Linked DNA regions of Homo sapiens. The protein of the gene in region 1 interacts with the protein of each later gene in a biochemical or structural test. Each region holds a gene or a part of one and is shown in the gene's direction. Other genes may lie near its edges.

The links.
Region 2: of the proteins of MAPT (region 1) and F2, one has a biochemical effect on the other in vitro, tested with the Homo sapiens proteins (one study listed by BioGRID).
Region 3: the proteins of MAPT (region 1) and BAG1 form a complex in vitro, tested with the Homo sapiens proteins (one study listed by BioGRID).
Region 4: of the proteins of MAPT (region 1) and MAPK9, one has a biochemical effect on the other in vitro, tested with the Homo sapiens proteins (2 studies listed by BioGRID).
Region 5: the proteins of MAPT (region 1) and PTGES3 form a complex in vitro, tested with the Homo sapiens proteins (one study listed by BioGRID).
Region 6: of the proteins of MAPT (region 1) and NPEPPS, one has a biochemical effect on the other in vitro, tested with the Homo sapiens proteins (one study listed by BioGRID).
Region 7: of the proteins of MAPT (region 1) and RPS6KA5, one has a biochemical effect on the other in vitro, tested with the Homo sapiens proteins (one study listed by BioGRID and IntAct).

Annotation. Positions count from the first base shown.
Region 1 is NC_000017.11:45,985,054-45,988,553, forward strand, and holds part of MAPT (microtubule-associated protein tau), read left to right. Parts: intron 1-1,986; coding exon 1,987-2,042; intron 2,043-3,500. UniProt on the Homo sapiens protein: Promotes microtubule assembly and stability, and might be involved in the establishment and maintenance of neuronal polarity.
Region 2 is NC_000011.10:46,736,213-46,740,006, forward strand, and holds the end of F2 (prothrombin preproprotein), read left to right. Parts: intron 1-2,835; coding exon 2,836-2,906; intron 2,907-3,052; coding exon 3,053-3,196; 3' UTR 3,197-3,294; downstream 3,295-3,794. UniProt on the Homo sapiens protein: Thrombin, which cleaves bonds after Arg and Lys, converts fibrinogen to fibrin and activates factors V, VII, VIII, XIII, and, in complex with thrombomodulin, protein C. Functions in blood homeostasis, inflammation and wound healing.
Region 3 is NC_000009.12:33,258,209-33,261,708, reverse strand, and holds part of BAG1 (BAG family molecular chaperone regulator 1), read left to right. Parts: intron 1-539; coding exon 540-622; intron 623-2,675; coding exon 2,676-2,789; intron 2,790-3,500. UniProt on the Homo sapiens protein: Co-chaperone for HSP70 and HSC70 chaperone proteins. Acts as a nucleotide-exchange factor (NEF) promoting the release of ADP from the HSP70 and HSC70 proteins thereby triggering client/substrate protein release.
Region 4 is NC_000005.10:180,250,584-180,254,083, reverse strand, and holds part of MAPK9 (mitogen-activated protein kinase 9), read left to right. Parts: intron 1-3,500. UniProt on the Homo sapiens protein: Serine/threonine-protein kinase involved in various processes such as cell proliferation, differentiation, migration, transformation and programmed cell death.
Region 5 is NC_000012.12:56,681,785-56,685,284, reverse strand, and holds part of PTGES3 (prostaglandin E synthase 3), read left to right. Parts: intron 1-3,500. UniProt on the Homo sapiens protein: Cytosolic prostaglandin synthase that catalyzes the oxidoreduction of prostaglandin endoperoxide H2 (PGH2) to prostaglandin E2 (PGE2).
Region 6 is NC_000017.11:47,583,108-47,586,607, forward strand, and holds part of NPEPPS (puromycin-sensitive aminopeptidase), read left to right. Parts: intron 1-2,392; coding exon 2,393-2,593; intron 2,594-3,040; coding exon 3,041-3,137; intron 3,138-3,257; coding exon 3,258-3,291; intron 3,292-3,500. UniProt on the Homo sapiens protein: Aminopeptidase with broad substrate specificity for several peptides. Involved in proteolytic events essential for cell growth and viability. May act as regulator of neuropeptide activity.
Region 7 is NC_000014.9:90,847,642-90,851,141, reverse strand, and holds the end of RPS6KA5 (ribosomal protein S6 kinase alpha-5), read left to right. Parts: 3' UTR 1-3,281; downstream 3,282-3,500. UniProt on the Homo sapiens protein: Serine/threonine-protein kinase that is required for the mitogen or stress-induced phosphorylation of the transcription factors CREB1 and ATF1 and for the regulation of the transcription factors RELA, STAT3 and ETV1/ER81, and that contributes to gene activation by histone phosphorylation and functions in the regulation of inflammatory genes.

The DNA of each region.
Region 1 (3,500 bases):
AGCACTTTGGGAGGCCAAGGCAGGTGGATCATTTGAGGTTAGGAGTTCGAGACCAGCCTGGCCAACATGGTGAGACCCTGTCTCTACTAAAATTACAAAAAATTAGCTGGGCGTGGTGGCGGGCACCTGTAGTCCCAGCTACTGGGGAGGCTGAAGCAGGATAAGTGCTTGAACCCAGGAGGCAGAGGTTACAGTGAGCCAAGATCACACCACTGTACCCTAAGCCTGGGCGACAGAGTGAGACTCTGTCTCAAAAAATAAAATAAAATAAAGTTAAGAGAGAAAAAAATATATCCTATATCCTTTGTTAAATTCCAAAACAGTAGGGGACAAATAACTGACTTGACAGGTTACTACAATATTTCCTGAAATGATGTTTTCTTGAATACTGGCCTACTAGAGGTTCATAGGTGTGTTTGGATTAAAAAAGAGTTCCATGGCCCAGTGACTGGGGGAAAAAAATAAAAGACTAAAGTAAGTTAAACAGGCTTTTCTGCTGCAGGACTTGTCAGAGCCTTTAATGTACTAATGGCCATTGTGACCCTCTGAGAAGGTCACAGAGTGGGTTTCCCAAACTTACTTGATTCTACCTGCTAACATTTCCTGGAGGAAGTTTGGGAAATGCCGATTTAGCAGATTCTTTTGTTGTGCCGTGGATGGTGCTGGTTGATGTGGGCAAAACAAAGAACACGTGAGTCAGATCCGCCTGGGGCTCTTACTAAAGTGCAGGTTCCCAGGTGCCACTTTAGGCTTACAGACCCAGTTGTGGGGTAAGCCTGGGAGTCTTTTAGCAGGTGATTCTGCCACATAGTATAGTTGGAAAACCTCTGGGCATACTCATTGCTGGTCCCTCTAGAAATCCAGGTGACAATAGCCAATGAGAAGCTCCAAGAGACCCAGTTGTCCATGGGGTAGAGGGAATGTGATATTGAAACCAAAGAAGAAAATCTATGATCAGTTTTCAGCAGTGACTGTCAAGAGAAGGAGAAGGGTGAGTTAGCGCTGATGCTGGCTGACAGGTCAGCGGGTTGGTTTCACCAAGGAGTGTGATGAAGGCTGATGTTGTCTGTGGGAATGTATGATGGTAACTGGTTTGTAGCTAATTTGGGGAAGCAGTGAGAATTCGTGCCCTTTGAAGACCAGTAAGTGGCAAGAAACCCACCAGGCCTGGCTCAGGGCTGGGCTGGGCTTGGCTCGTCTCAGAGCAGCTGGGGCTGGTGGCCAAAGCCACCATTAGTGAGGGGCAGGCCCTGGGGGTACAACCAGCAACTAGGGGACAAAGACAACCCTGCCAGCCTCTCCTATTCTGGAGGCGTGTGACCAGAAATGGAGATGGGTTGGTCAGCATAAGATGGCCAGGAAGGTGGAAATCAGGACTGCTGGCAATCTAGCCACATGGGCAGGGGAGCCGGGTGGTTCCAGGCAGTTTCCAAGGCCAAGAGGGTGAGCAGGCACCTCACAGGGAATCAGGGCCAAGCCTGGCTGCAGTGTGGAGACAATGCACCCACCCCCATCCTTGGATCTTGCAGGAGGCTGGGTCCTCACTGAGCTACCAACATCCATGGCCCTGAGGCTTTTAAAACACCCATCCATGGAGTGGGGCTGGTCCCAGTGGGGTGAGGCTGACCCTGGCAGAAACAGGGCAGGAGCCTGTGGGTTAGGGAGACTGCACCTTCCTTAGATAGCCTCCATGCCATCATGTCCCCGTGACAGTTTCTGCTGCGTCCCCTCTGCATGGTCCCACCCTCGGCCAGCCTGCTGCCCCCTCTTGCCAGGTTGCGCTAATCAGTGACCCCAGTGTGCTGTGTTGATACTAACAATGCGAGGCCTAGCAGATTCAAGGGAAAAGAGAACCAACTGGGTTTCCACCAGACCCAACTAAACAAACATGGACCTATCCCAGAGAAATCCAGCTTCACCACAGCTGGCTTTCTGTGAACAGTGAAAATGGAGTGTGACAAGCATTCTTATTTTATATTTTATCAGCTCGCATGGTCAGTAAAAGCAAAGACGGGACTGGAAGCGATGACAAAAAAGCCAAGGTAAGCTGACGATGCCACGGAGCTCTGCAGCTGGTCAAGTTTACAGAGAAGCTGTGCTTTATGTCTGATTCATTCTCATATATAATGTGGGGAGTATTTGTCACTAAAGTACAGCTGTCATTTAAAGTGCTTTGTATTTTGGGGCAGGCTTTTAAAAAGTCCAGCATTTATTAGTTTTGATACTTACCCCAGGGAAGAGCAGTTGGCAGGTTCATGAAGTCATGCTCCTAATTCCAGCTTTCTTAGTGTACTTTCAGTGAGACCCTGACAGTAAATGAAGGTGTGTTTGAAAACCAAACCCAGGACAGTAAATGAAGGTGTGTTTGAAAACCAGCCCTAGGACAGTAAATGAAGCCATCTTCTCACTGCATAAACTGCACCCAGATCTTCGCCCATCCTTCTCAGTATTTCACTTCACCCATTGTTTACTGTCTCAATGACTGGGGAAATGTCTGGGGAAATGCTCCCGTAATTGCACAGTGGCGTTTTTCCTGGAAAATCCCACCATGGCTCTAGATAAGACCTATTTTTCTTAAAGGTATCTAAAATTTCCAGCATAAATTCTGTCTGAAACACCTGAATTTTAATCAGTACTGGAGCCCGGAGGGCATCTCCAGTTGCCACATAGCTCTGAGCATTCAGTGGTGTGTTGAGGGCTGCTCCCGGAAGTGCCTGCAGAGTCAGGGCTCCCCAGCCTCATCTAGTGAGGCAGTGGAAGGGCCTGTGGGGATTTGGAGAGCTGGCCTGGGTCTCTGAAGTGATAGTGACAGCTGCTTGTCAATCACGGTGCACATTTAGTGCTGGGGGCAGGGGGCAGGGAATACCAGCCTCATGCATGCATGCATTCATTTGTTCCTTCCTTCATTCATTCATTCAGTACACATGGGTACAACATCCCTGCCCTGGAGTTGCCCAGAGTCTAGGGAGGGGAAAGATCTATTACCCTGGGCCTCGGCCAGCTGGGGAGTGCTGCTGGTGGAGAGGGGCCGTGTGCAGCGAGGGAAGGAGGAGTCGTCAATACCCCCACCCCAGCTTTGCTTTCTTGTCATCAGCCCCAGGGCCCCAGCCTGTGTCCCTCCTCTCCCATTGCTACTTCATCTCCTGGGTCCTCCTTACCAAGCCTGACCACACAGAGGGCCTTGGCCGCTTCCATGGGGAATTGGAAAGCAATAAGATAGCATCCCCTAGAAGCCCAGTGAAGTCTGGGACAGGACCCTTCTCTGAGCTCTGACTTGCTCTTGGAAACACTTCGAGGCTTAGCCTCCCCACTTTGTTTCCCGAGAGTGTGACCTGTTCCCCTCCAAACACCCCCTTCTCCTCCAGGGCCATGCCCACCCGTCAAAATCCCCCACGGGCAGGACGAACTGTGGGTGTCAGTCACCATCTATCCTGCATCCTGGTTCCAGGGCCCCCCCCAGCCCCGCCTCCATAGGGACAGGCGTGCAGACACCCGTCCCT
Region 2 (3,794 bases), on another chromosome or scaffold:
ATCAATCAATCAATCTTTGAACTAGTGATTTGAGATTTCACCTTTATCACATTCTAGATTGTATCTTATTTTCATTTATTTATTTGAAATATAGACAAGTCTCCCTGTGCTGCCCAGGCTGATTTCAAACTCCTGGCTGGGCTCGAGCAAGTCTCCCGCCTTGGCCTCCCAAACTGCTGGGATTACAGACGTGAGCCACCATACCTGACCTAGGTTTTATTTTTTAGTTTTATTTTTTCCTGCATCCAGCTAATTTGATTTGATTTGTAGAGACGGGGTCTTGCTATGTTACCTAGGCTGGTCTCGAACTCCTGGGCTCAAGTGATCCTCCTGCCTTGGCCTCCCAAAGTGTTGGGATTACCAGCATGAGCCACGGTGCCCAGCCCCACGTTCTAGATTTCTATGGATAGAGTATGCTTAAGGATGAGTATGTTTCTGGATGTTCGACTCGGCTTTCCTGGTCTGTTGTCTGTCTGTGTACAGCGTCACATTGTTTTAATGATAGAGGCTTTAGCGTACATAGCTGGGAAGGCTAATGTTCTCTTTTAGTTTTTCTTTCCAGTGGTTTCCTGGCAATTCTTGCATGTTTGTTTTTCCATATGAACTTTAGTGTCAACATGCCTAGGTCTATAAAAAAGCTTGGTGGTAATTTTATTGGGATTATGACACTTCAACAAATTAACTGGGAGAATGGACATATTTTTGATGTTGAGTCATTTTATCCAAGGATAAGAAACGTTTTCCTATTTGCTCAAGTCTATTATTGTATCTTTCTTGACTGCTGCAATGTATTCTCTTATAATTTTTTCTATTGGTATCTTATTTTATGTATTTGTAATATCTTATTTTTCTTGAGTAAATTAGTTAATGGCTTGCCGGTTTTCTCAAAACAAATATCTAGGGATTTGATTTATGAAATTATTAGGCCTATTATTTTTCTTTTTTTTGAGATGGAGTCTCACTCTGTCGCCCAGGCTGGAGTGCAGTGGCGTGATCTCAGCTCACTGCAACCTCCACCTCCTGGGTTCAAGTGATTCTCCTGCCTCAGCCTCCCCAGTAGCTGGGGTTACAGGTGCACGCCACCATGCCCGGCTAATTTTTTTATATTTTTAGTAGAGACGGGGTTTCACCATGTTAGCCAGGCTGGTCTCGAACTCCTGACCTCATGATCCGACTGCCTCAGCCTCCCAAAGTGCTGGGATTACAGGTGTGAGCCACCGTGCCTGGCCTTTTTTTTTTTTTTTTTGAGACAGAGTCTTGCTCTGTCACCCAGGCTGGAGTGCAGTGGTGCGATCTCGGCTCACTGAAAGCTCCACCTCCCGGGTTCACGCCATCCTCCTGCCTCAGCCTCCCGAGTAGCTGGGACTACAGGTGTACACTGCCACGCCCAGCTAATTTTTTGTATTTAGTAGAGACAGGGTTTCACCGCGTTCGCCAGGATGGTCTCGATCTCCTGACCTTGTGATCCGCCTGCCTCAGCCTCCCAAAGTGCTGGTATTACGGGCGTGAGCCACTGCGCCCGGCCAGGCCTATTATTTTTCTATTGTGGTTCATTAATTTCTGCTTTTTTCTCTTAAAAAGTTTGCTTACGTTTTTGTCTGGTTTACTTTGCTGTTCTCTTGCTAGCTTTTTTTTTTTTCAGATAGGGTCTTGCTCTGTTGCCCAGGCTGGAGTGCAGTGGCACAGTCATAGCTCACTGCAGCCTTGAACTCCTGGGCTCAAGCAATCCTCTTCTTGCTTCAGCCTCCCACGTAGCTAGGATCAGAGGTACATGCCACCATGTCCGGCTAATTTTTTTTTTTCGAGACAGAGTCTTGTTCTGTCGCTCAGGCGGTAGTGCAGTGGTGCAATCCCGGCTCACTGCAACCTCCACCTCCACCTCCCAGGTTCAAGCAATTCTACCTCAGTCTCCTGAGTAGCTGGGATTATAGGCGCACACCAACATGTCTGGCTAATTTTTGTATTTTTAGTAGAGACAGGGTTTCACCACGTTGGCCAGGCTGGTCTTAAACTCCTGACTTCATGATCCGCCCGCCTTGGCCTCCCAAAGTGCTGAGATTACAGGTGTGAGCCACAGCACCTAGTGAAGGTGTGGTTTTTTTGTGTAGGTTTTACTGTTGTTAGTGTTGTTCTGTATTGTTTGTAGAGGATACGTGGGGAGATTTGGATAAAAGCAACTATCATTATTATCCTCATCAGACTTGTAGGTCTAACTTTTTAATTTTTTAATTTTTAATTTAAATTTTTTTCTTGGTCTTTTATCATTAATTAATTTTTTCGAGACAGGGTCTCACTCTGTTGCCCAGGCTGGAGTGTGGTGACATGATCACGGCTCACTGCAGCCTTAACCTCCCAGGCGCAAGTGATCCTCCTCTCTTAGCCTCCCGAGTAGCTGGGACTCCAGGCATGTGCCACCATGCCCAGCTAATTTTTTGTAGAGAGAGGGTTTTGCCATATTGCCCAGGCTGGTCTTGAACTGCTGAGCTCAAGTGATCCACCCGGCTTGGGCATGAGCCACCTCCCCTGGTCTGGTCCAACTTTTTAAAAGCATTATTCTGCCTGTTGGGTGGAGAATAGACTGTAGGTGGGCAAAGAATGAAGGAAACTAGTGGGTTCAGGAGCTCGAGCTAGAAGTGGTGAGAAGGGTTTGGATTTGGGGTCTATGCTGAAGGTAGAGCCGACAAGATTTGCTAGGATTGGATGGGTAGGGTGAGGAAGTGGGGACAGCAAGAATGACTGGAGGGGTAAGTGGACTCTCACCAGCTGTGTCTCGTGAAGGGGCGTGGCTGGGCTATGAGCTATGCTCCTGAGCACAGACGGCTGTTCTCTTTCAAGGTTACAAGCCTGATGAAGGGAAACGAGGGGATGCCTGTGAAGGTGACAGTGGGGGACCCTTTGTCATGAAGGTAAGCTTCTCTAAAGCCCAGGGCCTGGTGAACACATCTTCTGGGGGTGGGGAGAAACTCTAGTATCTAGAAACAGTTGCCTGGCAGGGGAATACTGATGTGACCTTGAACTTGACTCTATTGGAAACCTCATCTTTCTTCTTCAGAGCCCCTTTAACAACCGCTGGTATCAAATGGGCATCGTCTCATGGGGTGAAGGCTGTGACCGGGATGGGAAATATGGCTTCTACACACATGTGTTCCGCCTGAAGAAGTGGATACAGAAGGTCATTGATCAGTTTGGAGAGTAGGGGGCCACTCATATTCTGGGCTCCTGGAACCAATCCCGTGAAAGAATTATTTTTGTGTTTCTAAAACTATGGTTCCCAATAAAAGTGACTCTCAGCGAGCCTCAATGCTCCCAGTGCTATTCATGGGCAGCTCTCTGGGCTCAGGAAGAGCCAGTAATACTACTGGATAAAGAAGACTTAAGAATCCACCACCTGGTGCACGCTGGTAGTCCGAGCACTCGGGAGGCTGAGGTGGGAGGATCGCTTGAGCCCAGGAGGTGGAGGCTGCAGTGAGCCACTGCACCCCAGCCTGGGTGACAGAGTGAGACCCTGTCCCAAAAGAATCCACTATCTATCTTCAGAGCAGGGCCAGGTGAGAGGAAAGATGGCAGGTTGAATTTACAGGCATTAAAGATGTTCCACCCTCTGGGTTTTAATGGATTATCTCATTTAATCCTCACAAGAGGTAGGTGAGTAAACTGAGATTTGGAGAAGTACCTTGTCCAAAGTCACATGGCTAAGAAAGCTCAAAGTAGGACTTCAAATATAGAAAATATTGAGTGAGGACGGTGCTTTTTTAGTTAACTCCCTACATCTTCCCTTGTATCATTAAAATGAT
Region 3 (3,500 bases), on another chromosome or scaffold:
ATTTATATTTCATAGTGTAACATATTGTCTTTAATTTTTAAAAATATTTTATTTCTGAATTATAAAGACAATAGAAATTCATGTTTCAAAATAGAGGAATGCATGAAAAAGAAAATGTTCCCCTGGATAAAACCCCTCATAATAACACTGTGTCATCAGCATTCATTGTGGTATTGGGGTTTCCTGCAAAAAATGAGCTTTAATGGCTACTGTAGACCTTAATGCCTACTGAAGACTTTAAAGTCTTCTGTAGTGTGGTTCGTTGGTCCCTGATTCCTGAATATTTGGCTCTTTCCAGTTTCTCACTATTATGAAAAGGTTGCACTGAATATTATCGTATAGTAGTTACTGTGGAGTCGCATGTCCAATTATTTGTTTAGGATAAATATCTGGAAATGAAATTACTGGGTCATGACACCCTCTAAAAAGATACCAGTTCTCATTAGTGAACACACTTGTCTATTTCCTGTATCCTGCTGAAATTTATTTTCAGTGTTGTACAATTATTACAACTTGGCCTACCTTTCTCCTCTTTTTAGGAAAATCTCTGAAGGAAATGGAAACACCGTTGTCAGCACTTGGAATACAAGATGGTTGCCGGGTCATGTTAATTGGGAAAAAGGTAAATTGCTTTTTCCATCAGAAATCCTCAGAATCAAATGACTGAAGTCTTTTATACATGTTTCTGTTTAGAAGACCAAACTGGGGACCCAGATTCTGCATTGATAAAACACCTCTCTAAACAAATACAATCTTTATTGGTTTTACAGGATTACCAGTTTTGTTGTTCTCATACCCTCCTGCTCCTGTTGGTTAGAACTTTTGCTCTAGGAATTAGGAGCGGTTGTGCTGCCTTAATAATATGTTTTTTGTTTTGGTGGTGGAATCTTGGTCTGGTTAAAATGGTGCCTGGGACAGGTCTCATTCACTTGGAGTAGAATTTGCAAGAGTCTTTTGTTAAAATAAACTTGTAGATATTAAGAATAATCACTCTGTTCCAGTTCAGGAGCCTCTCTCCCTTTAACCAACCTTTTAACTAAAATCTCCCACAAGGGAAAACCTTCGACTGGAAAGGAAGGTTCAGACTAAAGAACTGAGGGGAAAAAAAGACAGATGAGGTCAGCAACCCTTAAGGTGATGAGAGAGGGCTGTGGCCAGCCCTGCATTGTGACACAGCAGAATTATGAGCATATGAAGTTCCCTTATTGTGAGTTAGGTGGCTGAGTAGAGAGAGGGCAGATAAACAAAGTGAAGGCAAAAAAAATCTAATCCAGACTTGGAACTGCCAGGAGACTGGAACTCAGGACTTGCCACAAAGAGAAGTGAATAATTTGGGATAGCATAACTAAGCAGAAAGCTGCTAGACCTATCTATCAATTGTTTACCTGAGAGAAGAGGGAAATATTCTAAATTTCTTGCTTCAGGGTCAGGGAGAATGGTGATGGGCAACAGGCAGAACCAAAGAGTCAAGTTTGAAGAAACTATAGGACTTTTACTTGGAGCTGACACAGAGCGTATGGAGCGAAGTGTGAACTCAAGGAAGGCACCATGGCACATGCCTATTGTCCCAGCAAGTTGGGAGTCTGAGACAGGAGGATCACTTGAGTCCAGGGGTTTGAGGCTGCAGTGAGTTATGATCATGCCTGTAAACAGCCACTGCACTCCAACCTGGGAACCGTAGTGAGACCCTATCTCAAAAAAGAAAAAAGTCTGAACTTAAGTCTAATCTACCTCTTTTGGACTGTGTGATCTCATGTTACTTTACTACATTAAGCCTCAGTTTCATCATCTGTAAAACAGCAGTACTTCCCTGATGGAGTTGTGGTAAGGCTTAAAAAATAGGTAAGGTGCTTAGGATAGTGTGTGGCATGTAGGAAGTGTTCAATAAAAGTATTCATCGTTGTTAACCAGCATCACATTAAACAGGAGCGCTCAATTGGAGGCTGCCATTTAGGAATTCCATTTAAAGGAATGGTAGAATTCCACCTTTCTTGCCATTCTGGACTCCTCACAAGTGTTTACTGAAATGTGATTACCCTCCAGGCTTCAGTCTTGGTTGTTGATCAGTATAGGGCTGAGACTGAATCTGGCACTTGGATTGTCTCCATTCTCTGCACCCAAGCTGTCAGGGCCCTCACCAGAATGTTTACCTAACACCTTCTCTCTAGTCTGGAGTCTTTGTAGATGGAAAACTTGATGTATAACCCTTTGACTTGATTTCCAAGAAGCAACAGAGTTAAAACTGTTATTTCTAGGTGAGTGGCTTCATGCAGGTGTGGTCAGGTATTTTTCCTGACAGAGGCTGCTGTTCTTGTTGATTGCTTTTTCTTTTTTCTTTTTTTTTTTTGAGACAGTCTCGCTCTGTCACCCTGGCTGGAGTACAGGTGCACGATCTCAGCTCACTACAAACCTCCACCTCCCAGGTTCAAGCTATACTCCTGCCTCAGCCTCCCGAGTAGCTAGGACTACAGGTGCACGCCAGCATGCCTGGCTAATTTTTTTGTTTTTTTAGTAGAGACAGTGTTTCACCATGTTGGCCAGGCTGGTCTTGAACTCCTGACCTCAAATGATCTGCCCATCTCGGCCTCCCAAAGTGCTGGGATTACAGGCATGAGCCACCATGCCCAGCCTGTTCTTTTTGACTATTGGCTTTATTTTCTTCTTAAACATTTTAGAACAGTCCACAGGAAGAGGTTGAACTAAAGAAGTTGAAACATTTGGAGAAGTCTGTGGAGAAGATAGCTGACCAGCTGGAAGAGTTGAATAAAGAGCTTACTGGAATCCAGCAGGTAACTCTCTTCATGGACCTTAACTTTCTGCCTTCTATCAGAGCTTCCTGGATATAACTTGTGGTTATGGGGACATGTTCTGCAGTCAGACTCCCTGGGTTCAGATCCTGGATTCACCCTTTCTCTTACTGTGAACAAGTTTATCTTTGTCTCAAGTTCCTCATCTGTAAAAATGGAATAATGGTGACATTTCCCTATTAGGATTGTTGGGAGAATTAAATAATGTAGATTGAGCTTGACACATACTAAGTGCTTTATAAGCATTTATTGTCATAGTTATTGTCAAACCCCAGCCAGCATCCATTTATGCTCACAGGAGAGCACCTGCCTTGCTAGGATCATGTATTGTCTGAAATAGAACAAGTAGCTTCTCTCTGGGCTGTTGTAATGTGTTTGGCAAGGCAAATAACATTTTGTTGGTTCATAGAAGGTCCAAGTTGAACATGATAGTGGGGTTGGGGGAGTCATCCTATTCAATTCCTTATATTAGAGATGGGGTACTAAAACCCAGTAAGGATTAGGACTAGCTCAAGACCACTTTTATTTATTTTTCCCTCTCATTTTATAGCATTAATTGGGGTGTGTTTGTGTTTTGGCTTTTTTTTTTTTTTTTTTTTTTTTGATATGGAGTCTCGCTCTGTCACCCAGGCTGGAGTGCAGTGGTGCAATCTCAGTGGCTCCCTGTAGCCTCTGCCTGCCAGGTTCAAGTGA
Region 4 (3,500 bases), on another chromosome or scaffold:
GAGGCAGGAGAATTTCTTGAACCCAGGAAGCGGAGGTTGCAGTGAGCTGAGATAGTGCCATTGCACTCCAGCCTGAGCAACAAGATCGAGACTTCGTCTCAAAAAAAAAAAAAAAAAAAAGAGATTGAAGCATTAAAGGCTGACTGGAAGTACTGAGTGAATGGGTAAATTGTTAAAGAATGGGTGTCTCTTGGACCACAGGCAGCCACAGGTGTCACCTTCTGTAGGTTTTTTCTCTGGGCACCATTTAATTTCTCTGGAAAAGGCCCCTTCAGTCCCTTGGTGGAGGGATGTAAGCCTGGCTGCTGGGGTACAGGGCTGTGCTTCTCATGTGGCAGAGCGCAAACTCACCAGGCAGCCCTGTTGCAGGCAGGCCTCACCGTGCCTTCCCTGTTGGTACCCACAGGACTGTGCATGCGGCGCCTGTGGCCCTGCACCTGGAAGCTGGGCATCAGTTTCTCTGCGTGAAGGGCCAGCAGGAGTGAGGAAGGAGTGGAGCCTCACTTCTGGGATGGAGATGGGGATCTGGGACATCTACTACGTACTTGGACTTTCAATAAAATGAAAACTTCTCCAAGTGCTACCCTTGCCTCTTCTGCCTCCATAGCACCTGCATTTCACTTGCTGAGCCTTTCCTGGGTGTCGTGGCCATTTATAGAGGTTGGCATTTCCTTCGCTCAGCTAGGGCATTTGGGCGGCCCTGCAGCTTCCTGTCCCTGTAGCGTGGGGCTTTTCGTGGGCGGCTTCCGCATGCCACGGTGGGTTAGACAGGCGAGGGACTGGCCGGGAGGAGGCCTGTGCGAGAAGGAAGGGGGAGCAGCCAGAGGAGGCAGCAAATGCTAGCTGAACGTAGTGCAGTCCTGGCCCCTCAGAGGCCTGGTCCAGACTGCGGTGCAGCTCTGAGGGCCTCCGGTGTCACACAGGAACGGGCCTGCCTCAGCATCCCTGCCCGGTCGGCCCCTGGCTGACGGCTCTGTGGGAGGTGTGCCCTGGCAGGGACAGAGGGTAGGTGCAGACACCACACTGGGCCATCTGTCACTCTCACTCCTGTGGCGGGAGACCAAGGAGTGCATTTCCGTGGACCCCACAGTCCACCCTGGCCCCCTCAGCTCTACTTCTCCACATAAGTTGGGAATGGCTTTCCTGTGGCGCCCATGGTTCTCTCTTCCTCAGGGGAAATCTGGAAGACAGAGGTTAGTGGGACACCCTGTAGTCCCTGTCACTGTGGTCTCTCTGCTGGCTCTTTCCCTACCCTTTCCTGTTATTCATACCCTCAGCTCTCACATTGGCAGGCCTCTGTGGCTTGCCTGGCCTGTGTCCCAGGCCTTCATTCCTGAGCCGTCTGTGTCTGGTGGCTCTCAGTGGGCCACAGGGTCCCAGGCCACCCAGTGGCCGTCTCCCCAGTCCTCAGTGTGTAGCCGGAGCGGAGGCGCTTGGCAGGTGGAGTAACGCCCACACGAGTTCCTTGGCCTGTGAGTAAGAGTCGTCACAGTGGGAAGGCCAAATGGAAACCTGAAACTGCCCCCAAGATAGTAAATCAAAAACAAGATCACACCCTGCAGGGCCCGGGGTGGGTGGAGGAGACTAGGGCCACCATGGAAGCCTCAGGGGAGCAGAGACAGTGGTATCTTGCATCCCAGTCTAACTCGTTAGTCCAGCCCTTGAAGAAGCTGCATGGATTCTGGAGAATGACCCCAGACGGCCACAGGCTTACGGCACTGGCAGTCCTGGCCGCAGCTGCTGTGCATGTCAAGGTGCAGTTGTTGCTGGAGCAGATTAATAAGGCCTCAGGTCTGGCATGTTGATGGGGCAAATGCATCCTCCACACTGATTAGAAGAGAGGCCCAGACAGCGCCCACACTGCTGCAGGCTGGACAGCAATGTTCTCTCACAGCCTTGCTCTAAGCCTTTGCTAACGTTCCCACCCTCCCATAACATGGCCGCAAGAGACCTGGCCCAGACTTCACTTATGCCCTGACCCCTGACCCCTGACCCCACGAACCCTGCAAGTGGAGGAGCCCTGAGAGTGTTTGGGGTCTTCGGGTTTCAGTGTCTACTTAGAGCTGTGTCCATTCATCCTCAAGAGTGCCTGGCTGTTCTTACCCGGTGGGTGGCCACAGGTACCTGTGGGGAAGGACCGGCAAGGCCAGACAGTGGACACCTGTCATGATGTGCTCCTTCCTGGGATACCTCTCAAGCAGTGGGTCTGGATCCCAGAGTTGAGCGGGCAGTGGGGGAGGTCAGCACCTGCCCCACTCATGCTGCGGGTGCTGTGGGTACCCTCACTGCTGCCCACAGGGTAGCGTTGGGTTCCAGGCATTTTGGGAGCCAAGCCCCGATCCAGGCGTCACTTGGATCTGTACTTGGCATTTGTCTTCTTTGTTCTGAGTGATTTTCAAGACTTGAAGGGGCAGAACTGTCTTTCCTCTGCTGTCTTGAAATTGAAGTGAGGTGTTGGGAAGCTGCCTCAGGTTGTATTTCGGGGGTGACTAGAGAGGGTCCCAGGGTGCGGGGAGAGCACCTCCTTAGCCACCTCCCCATTGGCCACACAGAGCACCCACACAAGCTTGGGACTTTATCACCACAGTCTTCCAGCAGACGGCAGTAAAGTGTGCTTTTCCTGTTAAATTAGTATGTGATGACAGTTTTTTGACAGATGGCAGTGTCTTCAGATGAGCGTGTTTCTGGCGCACTGGGGTTCACAGAGCTGGCAGGCAGCCCGTGGAGATGGTTCCACTGCTGCGTCTGTCCTTGGTAGAACCAGGCTGTCCTTGTCTTCCTTGCTCCTGCGGCCGTGCTGTTAGTTCTGGGTGGGCTGGGCTTCAGGGCCTGCTGGCTGGGGAAGTGTGTGCATTTCACACCTCAGAAATCAGCCTCCTGGAGAGAAAGTGCCCACTGCACACCCTCTGTGGCCTGAGGAAGCGCCTGTTTCTGCTTCTCCCGCCAGCACCGAGTCTGCTTGCTTTCCATCGCTGCCAAGTGATAGACTAAAAATGGGCATTCATTTTGGGTTTTTAAAGAAGATTTTTGTGAGATTGAGCATTATTTTATCTGTTAGTAATTTATGTTCTAAAATGCCTGTTCTTGTCATACTCTTTGATTTTAAAAAAGGAAACAAGAAGCGAATTCGTTCATTTGGTCTTAGCTCCCTGACTTGGTCCTCACAGCGGAGCGTCCCTGGTTGAATGTGGGCTGCTTCTCCCTGGCTTTCCTTCATGCAGGGAGGCAGCCCGGTTTCTTCCTCTCAGGCCTTTCTGGGAACCGGGGGTGTCTGCACAGTACTCTAAGGTGGAATGGAGGGGCTGGGGGCCTCTTTTTGGGGCCAGGTAGAGATTGTGACTGCATTTTTAAACATTATATGTTTATCATTTAAATCTTACAGAATCTAGGAAGCCTAGAAACAGGTCACTTAGCAGCATGGCAGTGTAATTGTACCTGTTGTCAATGTCGAAATGGCTTCCTGCTTGCCCTGATGACAGCCCCACAGCCTTCACTGAGGC
Region 5 (3,500 bases), on another chromosome or scaffold:
TATGCCGTTTAGTAAATTCTTCAGGGACTCTTAACAAGCTAAAGACTTAAATTTTAAAATGAAAGTTGTAAGTCAGTTATTTGAAGTGGAAGAAGCCTTTAATGGGTCGTCATCCAGTCTTAAGAATCTGGCTGATAAGGGTTTATTTTGTTGATAACTTGTTTTAAAAGTGTTTTTTTTGGAGACAGGGTCTTCCTCTGTCACCCAGGCTGGAGTGCAGCTGCAACCTCTACCTCCCGGGCTCAAGCGATCCTCCTTGCCTCAGTCTCCCGAGTAGCTGGGACTGCAGGCAAGCACCACCATGCCTGGCTAATAAATTTTTTTTAAGCTCTGGGGAGAGAGAGATTTATGCTGGGTGTCTTAAAGGCTTGGGAGTGTGTTTTCTCATTTGATTTACTCATTTGCTCTTCAGCGATTTCGTAGTTACATTTCTTTAAATCCTAAGTTATAAAAGTTTGTCTCATAATTTACATAAAAGCTCTTAATTTCGGACCTATCTTGGAGAAGGCTGGGATTTTTAGGACCTTCCCCCACTTAAGATTTTCCGCTTAACTAACCTTGCCAGAGGGTGCTACTTCGCATTTTCTTTTTGAATCATTGTCGTTCGACCGATTAAAAATAGAGAAAAAGTAAAATGTTTTATTTATTTTAGAGATGTTGGAAGTTGTTGTTTTTCCTGTCTAATGTCTTGTATATAATTAGGAAGTTGTCCAGAAACTTGCGTCTCTGATTTTGGTAAAAATCTTCCTGTCATTCAGCTGTGTAGGAACGAATCTCCAAAATAAAATTGTCCATCTTTAGCCTGCAAAACAAATTGTCGTAGTGAACATATGCTATATTGTTAATTGCTATAACTTGAGTATCTGATGGTGGGTGGCCTTTGTTCAGTATTGATTTCCTGTGCACTGTAACCTGGCAACTGGATTTTTAATTTTTCTTCCTGTGTTCAGTTAGACTTTAACTAGAAGGCAGTAGAAACTGGAAGTGAAAAATTTCTTGAGTGCAAGCCAGTGTTTTATTGCTAAATTAAGATTCTCCTGACTAATTGGATTTTCTCGGTTTAAAAATCTACAAGCTATCATTTTTGGGTCTTGTGGTTAGCGATTGTCTCTTTTCAGGGGAAAAAAAACCTTTGTAAATATCAACTGTTCAGAACCAATCTCGCTGTTAAACACCTAAGATCATATTTACGTGAGCTCAAAAAATACTCTAGTGAGCATATTTTGCTATGGAAATAGTGTATTGAACTTTTTACTATTTACTGTGTGGATCGGCAATTACAGTTTTGGGGTTTTTTTTGTTTGTTTTTTTTGTTTTTTTTTTTTTTGAGACGGAGTTTCGCTGTCGCCCAGGCTGGAGTGCAGTGGCGCGATCTCGGCTCACTGCAGGCTCCGCCCCCTGGGGTTCACGCCATTCTCTTGCCTCAGCCTCCCGAGTAGCTGGGACTACAGGCACCCGCCACCTCGCCCGGCTAATTTTTTGTATTTTTAGTAGAGACGGGGTTTCACCGTGTTAGCCAGAATGGTCTCGATCTCCTGATCTCGTGATCCGCCTGCCTCGGCCTCCCAAAGTGCTGGGATTACAGGCGTGAGCCACCGCGCCCGGCCCATAGTTTTGGTTTTTGTTTGTTTTTTTGAGATGGAGTCTGGCTCTGTCGCCCAGGCTGGAGTGAACTGGTGCGATCTCGGCTCACTGCAACCTCCGCCTTCTGGGTTGAAGTAGTTCTCTGCCTCAGCTTCCTGAGTAGCTGGGATTCCAGGTGCCTGCCGCCATGCCTGGCTAATTTTTTTTTTTTTTTTTTTTTTTTTTTTGAGACAGAGTTTCTCTCTTGTTGCCCAGGCTGAAGTGCAATGTCACGGTCTCGGCTCACCGCAACCTCCGCCTCCTGTGTTCAAGCAATTCTCCTGCCTCAGCCTCCCGGGTAGCTGCGATCACAGGCATGCGCCACCATGCCCGGCTAATTAGTAGAGATGGGGTTTCTCCATGTTGGTCAGGCTGGTCTCAAACTCCCGACTTCAGGTGATCACCCGCCTCGGCCTCAGAAAGTGCTGGGATTACAGGTGTGAGCCACTGCATCTGGCCTAATTTTATATATTTTTAGTAGCGATGGGGTTTCACCATCTTGGCCAGGCTGGTCTTGAACTCCTGACCTCATGATCCACGCGCCTCAGACTCCTAGAGTGCTGGGATTACAGGCGTGAGCTACTGCCGCAGCCGGCAATGATAGATTCTAGAATGAGGCTGCTTCCCTGCTTCCTCGGTATACCTTTGTAAATTTTTTTTTTTTTCTTGAGGCGGAGTCTCATTCTGTTGCCCAGACTGCAGTGCAGTGGCGCGATCTTGGCTCACTGCAACCTCTGCCTCCTAGGTTCAAGCGATTCTCCTCTCTCAGACTCCCAAGTAGCTGGGACTACAGGCATGTGCCGCTATGCCCAGCTAATTTTTTGTATTTTAGTAGAAATGGGGTTTCGCCGTTTTGCTCAGGCAATCATCCCACCTTGGCCTTCCAAAGTGCTAGGATTACAGGTGTGAGCCACCACGCCCGGCCTTTTTTTTTTTTTTTCTTTTAAATGGAGACGGGATCTTACCGTGTTGTCCAGGTTGGTCTTGAACTCCTGGGCTCAAGTGATCTTCCTCCCAAAGTCCTGGGTTTACAGGTGTGAGCTGCTGCACCCGATCCTTGGTATACCTTTGAACTTGCGGTTTTCCGGGAATATTTCTTCTTTTCTGAGACACTGTCTCACTACTTTGCCCAGGCTGGAGTGCAGTGGTGTCATCACTGTCTGCAGCCTCAAACTTGGGATCAAGCCATCCTCCTGCCTTGGTCCCCCAGTAGTTGGGACTACAGGTGTGCACCACCACACCCAGCTAACTTAATTTTTTTTAGAGACGGGGGTCTCACAATGTTGCTAAGGCTTATCTTGTCTCAAACTCTTGGGCTCAAGCAGTCTTCCCTCCTCAGCCTCCCAGAGTGCTGGAATTGGAGCCACTTGCTCATTGATATTTTAACTTCACCTTCAGCATATGCTCTTTTCCCATTTTGTATTCTGAAGCTGAATAAAATGTGCTGTTGGGGCTTTTCTGTGCCTCAGGTGCTCATTCACATGAAGCCACACTTCATTTGATAGTGCCAATGTCAGCTGGGCACGGTGGCTCACACATGTAATCCCAGCACTTTTGGAGGCCAAGGCGGGCAGGTCACTTGTGGTCAGGAGTTCCAGACTAGCCTGGCCAACATGGTGAAACCCTGTCTCTACTAAAAATACAAAAATTAGCTGGGCACCGTGGCGGGTGCCTGTAATCCCAGCTACTTGGGAGGCTGAGGCAGGAGAATGGTTTGAACCCAGGAGGCGAGGAGGTTGCAGTGAGCCGAGAATGCGCCACTGCTGCACTCCAGCCTGGGTTACAGAGTGAGACTCTTTTTTTTTGAGATGGAGTCTTGCTCTGTCGCCCAGGCTGGAGTGCAATGGTGTGATTTCGGCTCACTGCAAGCTCTGCCT
Region 6 (3,500 bases), 1.6 Mb from region 1:
AAAGTGCTGGGATTACAGGCATGAGCCACCATGCCCAGCCAAGACCTCTTTTTCTTGATAGCTTTATTTTTGGAGGATTTTCTCTTTGTCAAATTCCTCGTTAAATACATTTATAAGATTATCTACTTCTTTTAATTTAGAGAGGTAAATTGACAAGTTTAATAGATTTATAGTAACTAAAAGCAAAAGGTCTTGGGCTGGATATGGTGGCTTACACCTGTCATCCCAGCACTTTGGGAAGTCAAGGTAGGCAGATCGCTTGAGGTCAGGAGTTGAAGACCAGCCTGGCCAACATGGTGAAAACCTGTCCTTACTAAAAATACAAAAATTATCTGAGTGTGGTTGCACACACCTGTAGTCCCAGCTAGTTGGGAGGCCGAGGTGGGAGGATCACTTGAACCCAGGAAGCGGAGTTTGTAGTGAGCTGAGATCACACCACTGCACTCCAGCCTGGGTGACAGAGCCAGACCCTATCTCAGAAAAAAAAAAAAGAAAAAGGTCTTGACTTATTAAATGTCATAAGAAAGCCAGGTACAGTGACTCTTGCTTGTAATCTCAGTGCTTTGGGAGGCTAAGGCAGGAGGATTGCTTGAGGCCAGGAGTTTGACACCAGTCTGGGCAACATAGTGAGACCTCATTTCTACAAAAGATTTAAAACTTAAAAGTTAGCCAGGTATGGTGGCACGTGTCTGTAATCCTAACTACTTGGGAGGCTAATGTGGGAGGATCTCTCGAACTTAGGAGTTTGAGGCTACAGGGAGCCGTGATTGTGCCACTGTATTCCAGCCTGGGTGACAGAACAAGACCCCATCTCTTAAAAAAAAAAAAATAGGCCAGGCATGGTGGCTCATGCCTGTAATCCCAGCACTTCAGGAGGCTGAGGCAGGTGGATCATTTGAGGCCAGGAGTTCGAGACCAGCCTGGCCAACATGGTGAAACCCCATCTCTACTAAAAATACAAAAATTAGCCAGATATGGTGGCAGGCACCTGTAACCCCAGCTACTTGGGAGGCTGAGGCAGGAGAATTGCTTGAACCTGGGAGGTGGAGGCTGCAGTGAGTTGAGATCGCGCCACTCCACTCCAGCCTGGGTGACAGAGCAAGACTCCATCTCGGGGGAAAAAAAAAAAAAAGGTTGCAACAGAGCAAGACCCTGTCTCTTATGTTTTTAAAAAGTTAAAAAAATTCAAAAGATGTAGCTGCGTAATGAAGTATATTTAGGTCTCTGGCTGTTTGTATTCTTGGAATGTATTCTCTTCACCAGTGTTATTGATCTCATTCATGAACAGGGTAAGCATTCCCCACTTGAAGTGTGTTGTCTAGGACTGTCTTGTGTGGGGAACTTGGAAAAACCTGCTGCACCTGAAAATAACTCTTTTATGTATTTATTGGGGGAGAGCATCCCATAAATAGAATGTCATTCTCTTCTCACATATTCTTAGAAGAGGAGGCTAATATATTAAACGGAAATATTCATTCACACTTTAGTATGAGTGAATTTATCAGTGTGTTCTTGAATAAGTCTTCCTTGGAAGGAAGAATAGAGAGAGCTTGAGGAAACAGAGCCTGAATAGGAAAAAGAGGGAGAACACCAAAGGAAATTAGGGACTCCAAAGGTAAAGTTGAAATTTCTTCACAAATAAGCTTAGAGCCAACTTTGGTAGAGAATGCCCTCGATCTAGAAGTTTGTATCCTTTGAAATGGGAGATTCTACAATTATATTATATTTATTTATTTTTGAGAAGGAGTCTCGCTGTGTCGCCCAGGCTGGAGTGCAGTGGTGTGATCCCAGCTCACTGCAAGCTCCGCCTCCCTAGTTCACGACATTCTCCTGCCTCAGCCTCCCAAGTAGCTGGGATTACAGGCACCCCCCACCATGCCTGGCTAATGTTTTGTATTTTTAGTAGAGATGGGGTTTCACCATGTTAGCCAGGATGGTCTTGATCTCCTGACCTTGTGATTCGCCTGCCTAAGCCTCCCAAAGTGCTGGTATTACAGGCGTGAGCCACCGCGCCTAGCCCCTATTTTATTTTTATTAATAGTCATTTTCTCCTAAACTTATGTCAGTTGAAAAGTATGAAGCCCTTAACTTAAATCATCCCAATGCCTGGCTTATAATAAGTATTTGAGAAAAGTCCATTCCTCTTTTCTTTCACAGGTCCTTGGTAGTTTTAACACTTCAGCCTCCAGCTTCTTAGTATGAGTGTTTTATCAGACCACTTTCCTTCTTAAAGACAGCATAAAAGCACTGGATGAATTGGGGTAGAGAAATAAGCCATGCTAGAATAGAAAGGGGTAAAGAGATGCAATAAAGCCTACAGTTTTTGGCTGGTATTTGCTCTATGGTATTAATGTAAACCTATTTAAATTTTTCTTTTTTTTATTTCTTAAAGAATGTAATTGACCGGAAACCATACCCTGATGATGAAAATTTAGTGGAAGTGAAGTTTGCCCGCACACCTGTTATGTCTACATATCTGGTGGCATTTGTTGTGGGTGAATATGACTTTGTAGAAACAAGGTCAAAAGATGGTGTGTGTGTCCGTGTTTACACTCCTGTTGGCAAAGCAGAGCAAGGAAAATTTGCGTTAGAGGTAAATGTACTTGAAGAGGATTGTTCCAACAGTCCATAACTCCAGGTTGGGGAATTTACATTTCTGGTCAATTATTAGTACAGTTATTTATAATTTAATCTGAAAGTTGTGCTACTTGGTTTATTTTTAGTAGAATTTAGGAAATGCCAACCTTGGTGTTTCATTATTTTACAAAATAATAATTAAGAGAATATAAGAGTGGAATTTCTCTAGGGAATGGGTTGGAAAATATGTAGTTATATTTTTCATATCAAGTTATAAATGGATTAAAGTTTGGCCATTGTATTCAAAGTTTGGAGCTAAGGCAGTCTTCGGAGGGTAGGGCTCCTCGGGATTCATTTCTAGTAATTTAAGATACATTGGCTTGCAACAGGATTCCTTTGTGGGTTTCAATATGAATTATAATAACATATTTATTAGATGGTTATTTTGTTTATACTTTTATAGGTTGCTGCTAAAACCTTGCCTTTTTATAAGGACTACTTCAATGTTCCTTATCCTCTACCTAAAATTGATCTCATTGCTATTGCAGACTTTGCAGCTGGTAAAGTAAATTTCATTTTATTGCTGAATTGTAATAACTTTTTAAAATTTTGTGACTTTTGATGCAAGAGTATATATATATATATATATATCAATAAATGTTTATATTTATTTTGTGAAGGTGCCATGGAGAACTGGGGCCTTGTTACTTATAGGTATGTTAATGATGTGTTACCCTGCCTTATCTTTTCAAATCACTGATTTCAAAAGGGCTTCCCTCCTAATCACAGTTGAGTAGCTTCTGCTTTACGATATGGTGTAAATTTTTCTACCTTCCCCCACTTCCGTGCACATTTCAAGAATGCAGATGGACACCCCTCCCTTTGGTGCTACTGTCTGAGGGTGTAAGATTTTAAAGTGAGCA
Region 7 (3,500 bases), on another chromosome or scaffold:
GGCATGAACCCGGGAGGCGGAGCTTGCAGTGAGCCGAGATCACGCCACTGCACTCCAGCCTGGGGGGCAGAGTGAGACTCTGTCTCAAAAAAAAAATAAAATAAAAGTATCTTTACCCACTTCTCTGTAGTGAATATTGACTAGCATTTTGAAGTAGGAACTAACAAAGTATAAAATTAAGTAGATTTTTTATATTTATGGGTATTGTTCTAGTACAAATTTATGGTGTACACTGTCGGTCTGAGTGTGGGTTTAAAATATATCATTGTGCTTGGCTAATTTGTAGAATGTCTTATTTGAATTGACTTCATTTATTTCAGAGGAATGCATAGATGATCAGATCAAACTGTCGTCATAGCAGTGTTTTCAGCACATACGAGAATCTTAGAGTTTAGGAGCCTTAGAGCTCACCCAGTGCAATTTCCTGCCGGAAGCAGATTCCTTCCTGGTGACCTCACCAACAGGTGCTTGTGCAGCCTTTTCCTGAAAACTTTTTGGGAAAGTGGGGGCTGCTACCTCACTACTTTGATGTGTACCTTTTGTTCAAGAACTTTCTAAAACTTGGAGCTAATCATGGGTTATTTCAGAAGATGTAAGCATTTTAAGTTTTTTATTGAATTCCATCCTTATTTAAAAGGCCTGGTTATGTAATATTTTCTGTTTTTTTTTTTTTTTTTTGTATGGTTTCCCACATTGATTAGGTTGTTTTCTTCATTTTCTTAATAGATTAAAAATACTTTCTTCTCTTTCTATTTGTGTCTTCTTCCATTTAGTATTTATGGGAGGGAGCAAGAAGGGAAAGGATGTCTATTTTTAAAATTGACTACAATCATGACTGTTCTTCTTGTCATTCTGTAGCAGCTGGATTTATTACCATCTCTTATTTAAAGGTCCTTCAGAACACGTTGAAGCAGTTCATTTCAGGTCAATGGCTGGTAAGCAATGTCAGGACCTCTGGGGAAGGAGAAGCTGACGGGATCCCAGAGGAAAGAATTGAGGTTGTTTGCTCCCTTGTAGAAAGCCCACAGATCCCTTCCCAGACTAGAAAAAAAGTGCCAGAGTGTCCTGAAACTTTCCTTCTAAGGCACATACTTCAAAGAGACTGGGGATTCCTTTGTTTTAAATATAGGTGGGGTCTCACAGTGTTGCCCAGGCTGGGCTCAAGCGATCCTGCCACCTGGGCCTCCCAAAGTGATGGGATTACAGGCATGAGCCACCATGCACGGCCATGGAGATTCTAATGTGGTGCCAGCTGCCAGGTAAGAAAGCTGTGAGACAATGTGTTGATTTTCCTTTACTACGTCAGGTTTGAGGACATCATCTAGCATCAACGGGTAACGTCACCCTTTGTTCCATCTTTGGGAAATAATAGTAGTAGCTTGTTACTGTTAGCTGACCCCTACATTAGCATCAATAAAGTAAATCCCTTTAACTTTCCTTTTGGCCTTTCCTTTCTCTCTCTCTGCCTCCCCACCAGCCCCGACTCTCTCCTGTGTGCGTACACATCCACACACACCTCCATGGTATTCCTTCTTTCTCCCACCTAAGGGAAGCTGTGCCCGATCTTGCTGCAGTCCAGGTCACCGTACTGAGATGAGTCAGCCACAGACTCTAAACACTAGCAGCGATTAGCCGTATGTAGCCACCAAGTGCACTGTTTTAGACAGGTTTACACAGCTCTTTGCTGTCCACTCATATCAGCTGTGTAGTAGCCCAAGGCAGCCTGTCAGGCAGAAGAATTACCAACCAAAGTGGATCTATTCATAAGATAAAAGATCCGGAGTCCGTGCCCTCTTAAAAAACTTTTGTCTTCAGACATATGGGTGCGTGTTCATCTCTGGCCAAAACTTTGTTTCCAGTTTCAAAGGGCTGGTTGCGAAGGTGGCCTTGTAACCTTTCTGTTGCCGGCTCTGTTAGTTGCCTGATAAGCAGTAGCTAATTCATCCTCCTCAGAATTTGAGAGTGGCATCTATTAGATTCAGACCACCAAGGTGCCTGCGCGGGCTCTCCTGGTTACGACTGAGTCCCCTTTTCTCATCTGTGGGGTGAACGCTTCTATTTGCAGAAATTTGCTTGCATCTTTTTCCTTTTATTTATTATTACTTTTTAGAGATGCGGCCTTGCTCTGTTGCCCAGGCTGGAGTGCGGTGGACTCTTTTCTTTTGTTGATCTTTGCCATCCTCTGCCTGGCTTAATGAGGTTCTTTCCCTGCGTATTTATGTCCCAGGAGCTCACCTTCCCCCTAGGTTTTTAAGAAGGAAGCAGAAAATGTTACAAAGTATAAGGGATTCTATGAAGTCCATAGATAGGATTTGCTTTGGGAGTAGATGATTTCTTCTTATTTTGGTGTAAACATCAATTTGGATGGCAATTAGAATGTCTTTAGCCTCTTTAAAAAGCCCTTCTGGGGCAAACCTTTGCAAGTCACTCAGCTGGCATGTAATGAGATTTTTATTTGCATGGCTTTTTTTTTCTAAGTCTCTCTAGAAGAACATAAGGACATTCTGAACATGCAAGGAATACAGTTATTCTCACATCAAGGATCAATTTTATTTTGTATCTTCATTTTATGTCATTTTCCTTTATTTTATTCACATTAATCTAGCATTAATTCCCCCCAGAGGGAATGATATTTTTGGTTGCTGCCACCTGTGTTATTAAGTGACAGCTTTTCTTTATCTGCTTTTCTGAATTTCATATTTATATACTTTATTGTAGTTTTTTAAAATCTATTCTAGCTGGGCTAGAATCTTCCAAGTATTAATTCATAATGAACTTCCCTCTTCTGGAATTGTTTAGGAGGGCTAATGTTCCATGTTCCCTTCGTTGCTATAGATATGAAGTTATTTCGATGTTCTTTGAGTGCTTTATTATAGCGATAACTGGTACTGCCTTTGATTAAAGGTGAGCTATATGGAGTTAAGCATTTTTATACTAGTAACTATTTATTGAGAATTTTCAGAATTCTATAGCTACTTGTCTTTAACAGTTATAAGAGGCATGTATTTTTTTTTCCTTCATGGTCTGGAAGTTAGTTTTCTCTTTGTTTGGGTAGATCGGAATGAGTTGTTGAGCTGTGTTGAAAACACACATGAATCAAAAAAGCAGATGTATTGTAGAAATGTGATGTTTTCATGTTTCGGGAATTTGACCGGAAAGCTTTATGTATGGGTTTTATTTTTAACAAAGCAGTAAGGGCTTACTTTTTACCAACTTGTGTGTGTGTAAAGATGTATTTGTTCAAGCTTTAAGAATAAACCTGTCAATGTACAAATGCCTGATATCTGACTTGGACTTGTGGTTTGTTTGTTTGTTTGTTTGTTTGCTTTTCGGGGCGTGGGGGTAGGTATGTTGGATCTTGGAAATAAGTGAGAGTGTTAAAGAAGCACAACAATCTGTATCAGTGAATTTACATCTTAGAAGACTCACATTAACTTATGCTTGAATGAAAACCGTGTGTGGATAACTGAATGCAGCGTTTTCTGAACTGCCCTGAAGGA